Homo sapiens: one gene and its partners. The protein of the gene in region 4 purifies or fractionates together with the protein of the main gene of each other region. This does not show direct contact. Each region holds a gene or a part of one and is shown on either strand. Other genes may lie near its edges.

The links. The genes of interacting proteins can lie anywhere in the genome.
Region 1: the proteins of NLRC4 (region 4) and NOD1 purify together in Homo sapiens (affinity purification with western blotting, with the first as the bait; one study listed by BioGRID). This does not show direct contact.
Region 2: the proteins of NLRC4 (region 4) and NLRP1 purify together in Homo sapiens (affinity purification with western blotting, with the first as the bait; one study listed by BioGRID). This does not show direct contact.
Region 3: the proteins of NLRC4 (region 4) and XK purify together in Homo sapiens (affinity purification with western blotting, with the first as the bait; one study listed by BioGRID). This does not show direct contact.

The regions. Positions count from the first base shown.
Region 1 is NC_000007.14:30,451,285-30,454,784, reverse strand, and holds part of NOD1 (nucleotide-binding oligomerization domain-containing protein 1), read left to right. Parts: intron 1-1,744; coding exon 1,745-3,500. UniProt on the Homo sapiens protein: Pattern recognition receptor (PRR) that detects bacterial peptidoglycan fragments and other danger signals and thus participates in both innate and adaptive immune responses.
Region 2 is NC_000017.11:5,553,510-5,557,009, forward strand, and holds part of NLRP1 (NACHT, LRR and PYD domains-containing protein 1), read right to left. Parts: intron 1,090-3,500; exon of another isoform or gene 997-1,089; intron 635-996; exon of another isoform or gene 492-634; intron 48-491; coding exon 1-47.
Region 3 is NC_000023.11:37,692,291-37,695,790, reverse strand, and holds part of XK (endoplasmic reticulum membrane adapter protein XK), read right to left. Parts: intron 1,506-3,500; coding exon 1,243-1,505; intron 1-1,242.
Region 4 is NC_000002.12:32,237,387-32,240,886, reverse strand, and holds part of NLRC4 (NLR family CARD domain-containing protein 4), read left to right. Parts: intron 1-2,584; coding exon 2,585-2,755; intron 2,756-3,500.

The DNA of each region.
Region 1 (3,500 bases), on a different chromosome or scaffold from region 4:
AGCACACACCTGTAGTTCCAGCTACTCAGGAGGCTGAGGCAAGAGGACTGCTTGAGCCCCAGAGTCTAAGGCTGCAGCGAGCTATGATTGTGCCCCTACACTCCAGCCTGGGTGACAGAGTGAGACCCTGTCTCTAAAAAAGGAAAGAAAAAAATTAAAAAGCCTTGCCAGGTTTGATTCTAGGCAAAGTATTCTGTCACCGTTGAGTGCCAGTCCTTATTTCCAAACTAATGGAAGACCCCATCAGTTAACTGATTAGTTCAATAAGTATTTTTTGCTGTATCCACCACATGCCAAGACCCTACACTGTGCTGGATGTCAGGGAGACAGTGGTGAGCAGACACAGACAGGGTTCCTGCCCTCAGGGAGCTTCAAGTCAGCTGGAAGAGACCACCAGTCAGCAATCTCAAAAATGTGTCAGGACAGCGGCAGTCCAAGGCATGTGAGAACATATCATTAGGGCCAGGATCTGCTCTGGGGCAGGAGTCTTCTTTCCCTGCTTTTGAACTCTCCACTTTGAGACAGCTGTTGGTAACATACCAGCACCAAGGACCTAAGTCCTGCCTTTTAAAGAATCCAATATGTTGTTGGAAACAGAAGCACAAGACAGGTGTGTGCTTAGGGGAAACAAGGCCAGCCGGCAGAGTGTCAGTGCTAGGCTCCAGCTTCCACAGCCCCTGCAGGTGCCTGCCAGCCACTGCTAGCTTCTGACTCTGTCTGCTCCTTCCTGTCTCCCCTTGTTTCCTTCCCCCATGAAAAAAAAAGAAAGTATTCCCATGAGGAATCATTCTTTCGAAAGACTTCTCTGTTGGTTCCGTTAGCCAGCTACTTTACTAGCTTTTACAGTGTAATTCACTCTACAAGCAGTCTCACACAAAAGACTACATATTGTATGATTCTGTTTATATGAAATGTCCAGAAAAGGTAAATCTATAGACAAAGCAAATCAGTAGTTGCCTACGGCCCAGGGATTGGCTACAAATAGGCTCCAGAAAACTCTGGGAAGATGGTAGAGATGTTCTAGACCTGGACTGTGGTGAGGTTTGCACAACTTTGTAAACTTACTAAAAATTACTGACAAATATATAACACTCCCTAACACTTTGGGAGGCCGAGGTGGGCAGATCGCTTGAACCCAGGAATTTGAGACCAGCCTGGGCAACATGGCGAGACCCCGTCTCTACAAAAAAACACAAAAATTAGTTGGGCTTGGTGGCATATGCCTGTGTCCCAGCTACTTGGGAGGCTGAGGTGGGAGGATTGCTTGAGCCTGGGAGTTTGAGACTGCATGATTGGGTCACTGCACCCTAGCCTGAGTGACAGAGCAGGACCCTATCTCTAACAACAAAAAAGCAGTGTTGGTGGAGGAGGGCCAGCGTGGCCATCTGGCCTGGCCCTCGAGTGCGAGGGGCTTCAGTGTTTAGCTGCAGTTCAGTGATGACACTGTGCGGAGGAATAAGGGTGGCCTGTCTCAGACACTGATCCCAGCTGAAGTTTGTCACCTTCTTTCTGGCAAATCTGAGGTCAAGCAGAGAGATCAAAGCCTGGGGCCCTCAGGGTCAGGAATGCTGGCTCTGTGACGCTCCCCAGGTCCTGCATCTGAGGAGTGGCTGCGCTGGCCTCAGGGCCCAGGTTGTGAATTTTGTTTATGCACTCGCCTCTCCTCTTTGAGACCTCCCTGTTTGATGCTGTTTCTGCCTCTCTCCTCACCCTGCTGCTGTGCCCTGCCACCCCCTCCCTCCAGTGAGCAGGTATACCCAGCAGCTGCGACACCATCTGGGCCGTGACTCCAAGTTCGTGCTGTGCTATGCCCAGAAGGAGGAGCTGCTGCTGGAGGAGATCTACATGGACACCATCATGGAGCTGGTTGGCTTCAGCAATGAGAGCCTGGGCAGCCTGAACAGCCTGGCCTGCCTCCTGGACCACACCACCGGCATCCTCAATGAGCAGGGTGAGACCATCTTCATCCTGGGTGATGCTGGGGTGGGCAAGTCCATGCTGCTACAGCGGCTGCAGAGCCTCTGGGCCACGGGCCGGCTAGACGCAGGGGTCAAATTCTTCTTCCACTTTCGCTGCCGCATGTTCAGCTGCTTCAAGGAAAGTGACAGGCTGTGTCTGCAGGACCTGCTCTTCAAGCACTACTGCTACCCAGAGCGGGACCCCGAGGAGGTGTTTGCCTTCCTGCTGCGCTTCCCCCACGTGGCCCTCTTCACCTTCGATGGCCTGGACGAGCTGCACTCGGACTTGGACCTGAGCCGCGTGCCTGACAGCTCCTGCCCCTGGGAGCCTGCCCACCCCCTGGTCTTGCTGGCCAACCTGCTCAGTGGGAAGCTGCTCAAGGGGGCTAGCAAGCTGCTCACAGCCCGCACAGGCATCGAGGTCCCGCGCCAGTTCCTGCGGAAGAAGGTGCTTCTCCGGGGCTTCTCCCCCAGCCACCTGCGCGCCTATGCCAGGAGGATGTTCCCCGAGCGGGCCCTGCAGGACCGCCTGCTGAGCCAGCTGGAGGCCAACCCCAACCTCTGCAGCCTGTGCTCTGTGCCCCTCTTCTGCTGGATCATCTTCCGGTGCTTCCAGCACTTCCGTGCTGCCTTTGAAGGCTCACCACAGCTGCCCGACTGCACGATGACCCTGACAGATGTCTTCCTCCTGGTCACTGAGGTCCATCTGAACAGGATGCAGCCCAGCAGCCTGGTGCAGCGGAACACACGCAGCCCAGTGGAGACCCTCCACGCCGGCCGGGACACTCTGTGCTCGCTGGGGCAGGTGGCCCACCGGGGCATGGAGAAGAGCCTCTTTGTCTTCACCCAGGAGGAGGTGCAGGCCTCCGGGCTGCAGGAGAGAGACATGCAGCTGGGCTTCCTGCGGGCTTTGCCGGAGCTGGGCCCCGGGGGTGACCAGCAGTCCTATGAGTTTTTCCACCTCACCCTCCAGGCCTTCTTTACAGCCTTCTTCCTCGTGCTGGACGACAGGGTGGGCACTCAGGAGCTGCTCAGGTTCTTCCAGGAGTGGATGCCCCCTGCGGGGGCAGCGACCACGTCCTGCTATCCTCCCTTCCTCCCGTTCCAGTGCCTGCAGGGCAGTGGTCCGGCGCGGGAAGACCTCTTCAAGAACAAGGATCACTTCCAGTTCACCAACCTCTTCCTGTGCGGGCTGTTGTCCAAAGCCAAACAGAAACTCCTGCGGCATCTGGTGCCCGCGGCAGCCCTGAGGAGAAAGCGCAAGGCCCTGTGGGCACACCTGTTTTCCAGCCTGCGGGGCTACCTGAAGAGCCTGCCCCGCGTTCAGGTCGAAAGCTTCAACCAGGTGCAGGCCATGCCCACGTTCATCTGGATGCTGCGCTGCATCTACGAGACACAGAGCCAGAAGGTGGGGCAGCTGGCGGCCAGGGGCATCTGCGCCAACTACCTCAAGCTGACCTACTGCAACGCCTGCTCGGCCGACTGCAGCGCCCTCTCCTTCGTCCTGCATCACTTCCCCAAGCGGCTGGCCCTAGACCTAGA
Region 2 (3,500 bases), on a different chromosome or scaffold from region 4:
AGAAGAGAATCTGCCAATAGGCATCTGTGACTGGGACCCACCTGAACCTGAGGGGGAGAGAGAAGGACAGGAGAGATGTGATGTGTCTGGCAGGGGTTTGAGGTGCCCAGCCCTGCACAACACAGTTGGGCTTTGTCCCCCTGAGCACCAGGCCACAGCGGGTAGTGCCATCTCCAGTACTGACCAGCCCTCCCTGCCTGTCTGCCCGTCACCCAGGGCTAGGTCCCTCTCCTCCATGTGGCTCCTCATTCTACAGCCCTTACCATAGCACACTGAAGTGTTCACCTTGTGTGTCTGTTTCTGCCTCAGTCTGGGAGTTCCTTGAGGGCAGGGACAGACATTTGTCTTTTTTTTTTTTTTTTTAAATCTGCACTGCTCAGCATAGGGCCTGGCCTCGGTGCTGAGCACTGCAGATAAGAAAAAAATTTTTTAAAAAAATTTGACAATTTTAATTTAAAAAAAATTTGACAGCCTTCCTCCCTTTGATGCAGACACACCTGTGTTCCTTTGGCACAGACATTCTGGAGTCCCAGTGCCCAGGAAAGAAGACGGGAGGCAGTAGCAGAGCCTGGGAGAGATGGCCTGAGGATGTTGTGATGGAAGACTGTATATGATCATATGCACTGCTGTCCAGGTTGGCTCACATGGGACCCTATCCCCTTCCCAGGATAACAAGAGGGTCTGCAGGAGAGGGATGGCTGTGGGGAGTGCCCTAGGAGAGAATATTTGCAGCCTGAGGGGAAGAGATGACGGGCTTTGTCTGAGGGTGTTAGAGTAGACTCCGACTCATGGAATTTCCACCCATTTAATCTGTTTTCACACACTACTTTAGTGACCTCATCTACCTCCAAGGCTTCAACTACTCAAATCTCTATTCCAAGTTTCAGACTGAGTTTTCTATTTTCTGGTTGGATATCCCCACCTTGACATCCCAGTAATTCTTTGATCTAATTTGTCCCAACAAGTCCCCAACCTGAATTCATCTTTTCCCCTAAGTCTGCAGAGCCATGTGGGGGCAAGAAGCAGAGGCAAGGAGCTGCCTGCATGTGGGCTCTGCTTCTCTATCCCTCACTCCGTCTCCTCCGCTGCAAAAAGAGGACAGCAATAGCACCTGCTGCAGAGGGGTATGTGAGAATTAAAAGCTACTAAAGAGTATCCCAAAAGTCCTAGAGCAGTTTTAAGTTTTAATAACTGTGAAAGTACAAGTACTACAAACATATAAAAAAAGCCAGCTGAGTGCAGTGGCTCTAGCCTGTAATCCCAGTACTTGAGGAGGTAGAGGCAGGAGGATCGATTGAGCCCAGGAGTTTAAGACCAGCCTGGGCAACATAGTAAGATCCTGTTTCTACAAAAAATAAAAAAAATTAGGCAATGTGGTGGTGTGCACCTGTAGTCCCAGCTACTCAGGAGGCTGAGGCAGGAGAATGGCTTGAACCTGGGAGGCCAAGGTTGCAGTGAGGTATGGTCATGCCACTGCACTATTCCTGGGAGACACAGTGAGATCCCATCACACACACACACACACACACACACACACACACACACACGAAAAAAAGCCATAAATGAAAGCTTACTTGAATTTCTTTTACACTTACTTAGTTTTGTGAAACTTGAAAAATACATTTTAAATTTTTTATTTCCGTTGGCATTTGCCATCCTTAATCAAGGTGACTGAAAAAAAATTAAAAATTTATACTTGAAAATGCACAATGCTTAATCACATGCCAAACACCTGGAAGCTCCCATCCTGTCATCTTCATTTCTTTAATATCTCTGGTTGGTTCTCCTCTTCCTTCACACAGCCCTTGGCCAACCTCCACCCTTTCTTCCTGAACTTTCTTGTTTTTTTTATAGTAGCTTCCTTATTCTTCTCTCTGCCTTGTCTAGCTGATTCAGTTCCTTGAAAATTTCTCCTCCCACTTGTGGCTGAAGCCTCTGACTTTCCCACGGCATTCTCTTAAGGCTCCACTTGCTCCCGCCCATCCCAAACTCTCCTCTCTGGCCTGGTGTTCTTGGTTCCCTTTGCCTATCCCAGCCCCCATCCCCCGGCCAGCCACCATCTGGTCTCTGCCTCTAGCTGCTTGGAACTCTTTGAAGATTTCCCACCTGTCCACTGCTACTTGCAGTACCTGTATCCAGGTCCTTTAAAGCCTACCTCACATTTATAACTATGAACAACTAGAAGCAGCTTAAAATGGCCAAGAACAGGAGAATGGTCAAATCAGCCATGGCACTTTCCCTATGGAATAGCATGTGGTCATTCAAAATGGTGTTGTATCAGACTACTTAAAAATATATAAAGGGCTGGCATGGTGGCTCATGCCTGTGATCCCAGCACTTTGGGAGGCTGAGGCAGAAGGATCATTTGAGGTCAGGAGTTCAAGACCAACCTGGCCAACATGGTGAAACCCCGTTTCTACTAAGACGACAAAAAATTAGCTGGGTGTGGTGGTGCGTGCCTGTAATCCCAGCTACTCTGGAGGCTGAGGCATGAGAATTGCTTGAACCTGGGAGGCAGAGGTTGCAGTGAGCAGAGATCGTGCCACCGCATGCCAGCCTGGTGACAGAGCAAGACTCTGTCTGTCTCTGTCTCTGTCTCTCTCTCTACACACACACACACACACACACACACACACACACACACACACACACATGAAGGGCTGGGCATGGTGGCTCACATCTGTGATCCCAGCACTTTGGGAGGTCAAGGTGAGCAGCTTGCTTGAGCCCAGGAGTTTGAGACCAGCTTGGTCAACACAGTGAAATCTCATCTCTATACAAAAAATATACAAAAATTATCGCTGCATGTTGGCATGCTCCTGTAGTCTCAGCTCCTAGCGGGGCTGAGGTAAGAGGATCCCTTAAACTCGGGTGGTCCAGGCTGCAGTGAGCTGTGATTGCACCACTGCACTCCAGCCTAGGGGACAGAGCGAGACTCCGTCTCAGACAACAACAAACCAAAAAAAAAAAAAAATACCCCACACCCACTCACAAGAAGATAGCCTTGATATATAAAGAAAATAAAACTGACTATAAAATAAAATGTACAATATGGTTCGATTTCGCCATAGACATGTGCACAGAAAAAAGACTGGGGTTCTTACAATTGACCACTAATTTTTTTTTTTTTTGAGACTGAGTTTTGCTCTTTTTCCCAGGCTGGAGTGAAGTGGCACAATCTCAGCTCACTGCAACCTCTGCCCCTGACCTGTCAAGTGATTCTCCTGCCTCAGCCTCCTGAGTAGCTGGGATTACAGGCGCCTGACACCATTTTCGGCTAATTTATGTATTTTTAGTAGAGATGGGGTTTCACCATGTTGACCAGGCTGGTCTCGAACTCCTGACCTCAGGTGATCCACCTGCCTCGGCCTCCCAAAGTGCTGGGATTACAGGTGTGAGCCACCACACCCAGCCAATTTTTAATGATGGTTATTACAGAATGATGGAATTCTTATTGATACTATTTTTCATCTTTTTGCTTATCTACGTTATCTTTTGTT
Region 3 (3,500 bases), on a different chromosome or scaffold from region 4:
ATATTTTAAGAATCATAATCAGGCAACCTGGATAAGGGAGATGGCTCTAACATGTAAGTATCCTGTGACTCTGACATGAATTATTACTAGCCAGTCTAAAACATAGGCAGAAAGAGGATAAAACTGAGTGAAGTAAAATAAATAAGAGTCTTTCTTATCTTCAATGTTTTCTTAAACATGTATTTTTTCAACTTACGGCTTTTAAATCATTTTGTATACCGATAATAAAACTTACCATAATGGTTTTCGTTTACCCATAATATTAATACTTGGGAGGGGGTTGTTTCCACTTCTCATTTGTAGGCTTTTCATTAAAATCTTGACTCTGATGCAAATAGTGTTTTTTTTTTTTAACTTAACCAAAATCTGCTCTTAATTTGATGATGTGAGAATAGCCCAAAGGTAGAATATTGTCTTGACTTATAAACTGATATACCTATTACAAGTCTAAGAAGACAGGAAAGTGGCCTTGTTCCATTATTCACCACAAAGTTGTTAAGCCAACTGTCTCAACTAGTTTAGAACTAGCACTGAAAGACAGAGTGAAATCCCAAGAGAAGCAGCCTCCAGTAGCTGTGTTTTCAGCCTCTGGTAAACTGTATTTTCTAAAAATGGCCACAGTGGTATTTTTGGTCCCAGGTGATCTTCTAGAACTCTACCATTCCACAACAAGAGTCAGAGTTTGCTTCCCTCTCCTCTCCCTTGAATCTGGGCAGAACTCTGTAAGTATTTCAACAATGAGAAGGAAGCAGAAGTGATGTCCCACAACTCCCAAGCCTGGATCACAAAAGCTGATGTGGCTTCCATCTGGCCTTCCCTCCTTCTTAGAACACTCACCCTTGGAAGCAGCTACCATGCTATAAGGAAGCCCAAACTCACCCACACAGAGAAATCAAATGGAGAAGATCTGAAACTCCCAGCAACAGCCAATATCAAAACATGTGAACAACAAGACATGTGAGTGAAGGGGCCTTGAATAGATTCTAGCCCCCTACCTTTGAGCCACCCTAGCTGATCCACAGTGGATCACAGATTAGGTAACCCTTTTGAGCCCTGCCTAGAATGCAGAGTCATAAGCAAAATAAACGTTGTTATTTTAATTGAGTTTTGAGCATAGTAACTAGAACACAGATTCAGAATTAAGTGCACTTAAGAACAAATTTCCTTTGAAACAAAATAAACTGCATATTTTGCTTCTCATTTTGATCCCCAAATGCAGGCAGAAATAAAAAATACACGTACTTCTTCCAACAGTGACGTCCTGCTGCATGACACTTATGTACAGCTGTAGGGTCAGCTGGGGGGCTGAGCCCAAGAAAGCCTGGATCACCGACGCCCGGCTGAACGCTGATCGGTGGGTGATTAGTTTGCCTTCTGCCTGGCCCACCTCCTTCTCAATCTCCTCTGAGAGGCCATTTTTTGGCATTTGCCTCTTCTTGGTGATACTGACATAAGGCTCTTCATTGTTGCCTGACTGAAAGTAGATGCAGAAGACTTCAAAACACCTGAAAACAAATCAGGAAATCATAATAATTAGAGACAGACAGGATTCTGACTTTCCATGCTCATCCTACTTACCTTTAGCCTGATTCTTAAAGCCTTGACTTGGCTACTCTGAACTATAGTCACTCTTCTAAATCAACTACTCCAAGGACCAGTTCTCAGTATGCAGTCCTCTTGATGCTTTCCAGCAGGCCAATGGGAATTGAATGAGAACCAAATGAAGAGGTAATACCAAAGGCCACTGAAGCAAGGAAATCTCTTAGAGAATGGAAAGTGGTTCCGGCTCCAGAGCCACAGAAAAAATGTGCAGTTTCCCTTCCTGACACATACTAGCTGTGTAGCCATAGCCGAGTCACCTACTATCCCCACCCCAGCACATTCCCTCCACTATAAAGCAGATATAATACCCACTTTGTCATATTGCTGTGAAAAATGGTGATTATATAGTGTGACTGCATGCATGCATGCACGCACACACGTGTGTGTGTTCCACATCCAAAAGATGCCCCAAACCACCCCAGTTAAAGCAGAAGCTATGGCTCGGAAATCCTCCAGCACAGGGCAGCTTGCCATCTAGCATTTCACTGGGAGACCACAACATGTTACCTATCTCTGTTTTCATAAGTCCTTACAGGGCGGGACTAAAGTCAGTCCCAGACTTAATCAGTGACTTTTCCAGACTGAGAGAATACCTGGCTTTTAAAATTTGGATTTCCTCTCTAGGTAAAAATATGGATGCTGAAGTGGGAAGAATACTGATGTCTGTGATTAACTTTGAAGTACATACACACACACACACACACACACACACGAATTGATAGATGGATAAATATGTGAAACAAAATGTTAATTGTAGAATCTAGGTGGTGAGTACTTGGGTGTTCACTATAGAATTCCTTAAACTTGTCTTCTGTGTGTTTGAAAATTTTCATAATAAAATGCTGGTTAAAAATGTGTTTTCCCTAGGAGTAAGAAAAATATTCATGGCCGTAGGTTTGTAACTTGTTAAAGGACTTTTTGTCCCTCCTCTAACATGCACTTTTATAACAACCTTATGATGCTGCCAGAAGATTTTAATGGCTTAATCTATTTCATTGAATGTTTATGTTATAATGTTAACTTTATACTCTCATCCTGAGGTGACTACGGCAACTGGAATGTATTTATAATTTGAAATAATAAAATAAAGCTTGATGTAAGAGAGGAAATGCAGGAACCTTTCTGGTGAGCTCAAAGTGGACATATTTTGTGATTAATACCATTGTTCATTTGTTGCTAGGAGAAAGAAGGTGTATGGTGTGTGTGGGTGTGTGTGTGGGGGGGGGTTGATTTGTGTACGACATTTTGTCCCATGGGGTCAAGAACACTTTAATATATTACATGAAAACAATGTAAAACCACACAGACCAGTTTTTTCAGTTGGAAATAATGTCAATGAAGTTCAGGCCATGAGTTCAATCCCAAGCACGTCCAATTGAATTTTCTCTGAAGGAAAACTCAAATTAATGACTGAGGACTGTATGAGGCCTAGCAACTTTACACTGTTGGACCACTGATCACATCAAAGATTAGAAAACAGAATGAACTGGCCGGGGGCAGTGGCTCACGCCTGTAATCCCAGCACTTTGGGAGGCTGAGGCAGGCGGATCACCTGAGGTCAGGAGTTTGAGATCAGTCTGGCCAACATGGTGAAACCACATCTCTACTAAAAATTAAAAAATTAGCCAGGCATGGTGGTGCACCCTTGTAGTCTCACCTACTCGGGAGGCTGAGGCAGGAGAATTGCTTGAACACAAGAGGCGAAGATTGCGCCACTGCACTCCAGCCTGGGTGACAGAGCGAGACTCTGTCTCAAAAAAACAAACTAAAACAAAACAAAAACAGAATAAACTGATAATCATCTTTATTCTCAAATATGAGATGAATGCGGGTGTGGTTTACTAAGTGCTGTGGGGAATGCAGACAGCTGGATACCCCTGCCTCATTTGGGGGCACTC
Region 4 (3,500 bases):
ACTGCCATTAAAATCCTTCAGCATCATTTTATTCAAATTGTACAACACCAGATGGTAACCCTTTTGGGAAGAGAGCCCCTGACGTGTTTTTAACTTCCGTCTCCCTGGCTCATTGGCTATGTTTTTATTTAATGCATAGAAACAATATTTTAAAGTTTATAGTATAGTTTCATAGTTGCATAGAAACAATATTTTAAAGTTTATACTATGGTTTCATAGTTAAAAAAATTCATAAATGAAATAGGACACAGGAAACAATGTGAATCAAGAAAACTTTGGGGGAAGCATGCTTTCATTCTACACTGCAGGTTGTGTTTCCCCAATCAAAAAAATGAAAAGGAAAAGGAAACTTCAGGAACACAAGCAGAACACATGGCTTACCACAGGGAACCAGGCCCTGCAGGCCAGGGAGGATTCCTGTTAAAGCTGCTTTCCTTGAATGTCCCTGTTTTCTCGTGTGTTGGATTTTTTTTTTTTTTTTTTTTGGCTCTTTTTTTCCCTACTTGAGTCCTCACTAAAATACTCCTCTCTTCCCTTCATCTTGTTCTTTCTTATTCTGCTTCCTGCCGAAAGACAACTCTAGCCTATAAGCCAAACATGGCTGAAGCCTGGGCATGGTGGATCACACCTGTAATTCCAGCACTCTGGGAGGCCGAGGCAGATGGATCACCTGAGTTCAGGAGTTCGAGACCAGCCTGGCCAACATGGTGAAACCCTGTCTCTACTAAAAATACAAAAATTAGCTGGGCATGGTGGTATGCACCTGTAATGCCAGCTACTTGGGAGGCTGAGGAAGGATAATCACTTGAACTCAGGAGGAGGAGGTTGTAGTGAGCCGAGATTGCTCCACTGCACTCCAGCCTCGGTGACAGAGATAGACTCCATCTTGAAACAAAAACAAAAACAAAAGCAAAACATGGCTGACTTCTTTTCCTTATATGTCCTACGTGAGAATAATCAAATTAATTCAGTGTTCAATAAACATTTATTGCATGTGTATAAATTACACAGAAAATCAGAGCTGGAAGGGGATTGAGAGCATCTAATTCAACTCATTCATTTCACAGAAAACTCCACTAGAACCTAAAATAGCTTATTGACTTGCTCAAGATCTTACCAACTGGTAGAAAGAGGTCAAAAAGTACCTCTCTAGGATAGCCTGCTTCTGCTATTAAGGAATCAAAATGTGAACTTGACTAAACCAGTCTAATTATATCAGTAATAATTTACTCTTTATTAAAGAGTTACTCTGCTATAGATTAGACACTAGCCTCGGCAGTTTTATATACCTCATTCCATTGAATCCCCACAACAGTCCTAGTACATAGATATAATGATCCCTAACGCTTCAGCTAAAAGATTGAATAACTTGCCCAAGTTTATAATTATTAAGTAGGGGATCCAGGAACTGACTGCAAAGCTCATGCTCACAACCTTTAACCGGTATATACTCCCATGACAACAATGAACATTTATGGAGCACTTACTATGTGCCAGGCACCACATTAAATATGTTAACGTACATTATCTGCAACCTTCCCGAAAGCTCTGCAAGACTGATATTATTAGAATCATATATTTTATTTCTTTTCTTTTCTTTTCTTTGAGATGGGAGTCTCGCTCTGTCGCCCAGGCTGGAGTGCAGTGGTGAGATGTTGGCTCACTGCAACCTCTGCCTCCTGGGTTCAAGCGATTCTAATGCCTCAACCTCCGAAGTAGCTGAGATTACAGGTGTGCACCATCACGCCCAGCTAATTTTTGTATTTTTAGTAGAGATGGGGTTCCGCCATGTTGGACAGGCTGGTCTTGAACTCCTGACCTCAGGTGATTCGCCTATCACTGCCTCCCATAGTGCTGGGATTACAGGTGTGAGCCACCATGCCTGGTCATTAAAATCATATATTTCTTTCCCGTAGGCTACAGTACCATCAAGATAAGACAGTATTTTAATGACACAAAGTGAGGCCTAACCAATCCTAAACTGCACATTAGCTTTAGACTTAAGAACGGGGGATATTTTAGAATGTTTCCAATTATACTGTTGATATAAGGTAAATCTTTCTTCTGGTTAAACATGCTGCAGTGGATGTGGTCTTCATTCTAAAGCTTCAGGCAGGCCCCATATCATGAGTCCAGGCAAGGCTTTTGAGGCTGTAGACAGTTGCACTAGAAGCACTCCAAGGAGCCAAGTCCTCATCTACCTCCCTGAACTCAGCCCCCCCGCTGTTTAAGATTTTTGAGAAGATTGAAAGGAGAGTGCTCTAGAAGACTTCATTCATGTAAAGAATTACGGTAAGAGTATACATTGATGCCCATTAAAAAGACTACAAATTTACTACAGTGTTTCTCATGCTACTAAGAGAATAACCTCCATATAAGTGATTTTTTGTGTGGTCCAAGAGACTGGAAAGTGAGAATTGAAAGAAAAAAAGCTCTCGTTGATTCTTTGTAACTTAAAGTCGCTGCAGGAAGAACATGGCAAGGTCTCTGCACAATTATTCTTTGCTTTCTTTTCAGTTCATTAATCTATGCTTAAATCGAATTAACTTGGTATCCTAATGCATTCCTTTCTATCATTTTTCAGCTGAAGGCCTGAAAAACCTGAAGAAGATGTGTTTATTTCATTTGACCCACTTGTCTGACATTGGAGAGGGAATGGATTACATAGTCAAGTCTCTGTCAAGTGAACCCTGTGACCTTGAAGAAATTCAATTAGTCTCCTGCTGCTTGTCTGCAAATGCAGTGAAAATCCTAGGTAACTGTTGCTTCCATTAACTGAATGAGGACAGTATAACAGAACATGTGATACTATTATACTAATTCACACTAAATGTCTCAAATGGAAATTTAATTTTAAGGAAAACTGGAAAATAAAAACTTCTCGATAATAAGCAGATTGTTTTTAATGATTTTTCTCCATATTAGAATTAAATCAACTATTGATGGATAATAGGGGAGAATTTCAGAATAATTGAAGATGTAATTTTTAGAGAAAGTGAAAAGGAAGAAAATAAGAAATAGGTGCTTGAAACTTGCCACACAACCGGTCATATAATTTACTGCCTAATAAACATTTAAATGAATGGATAAATGATTGAGAAGTGAGAGATAAAGATTTTCTTAAATGATCTCAGGCTTCTAATTCCTACCCATTGCCCTGTTAAGATGAAGTTAATGTGCATGATATGATAATTGAGCCTTCTGAGTTCCCAAAGGGATGCATATCAACTACGGGGAAACTAACTGCATATTTCTGGATAAACTATACATGTGTAATTCAGACATATTTTAAAATTTAGATTTTGGAAAACAGTGGTATAATCTTTTTAAAGTTAAACTATATAACTGCTGGGAGTCTCTAAAGATAACTAAGGAAGCCATTTGTATACTAATATAAAGTTACAGCTAGAGAAACCCACAGTTGAAAAAGGCTGGATAAGTACTGGGAATATGAGAACAATGAGCACATGCCTTTATTTCTCTACTTACTGATGGGGAGA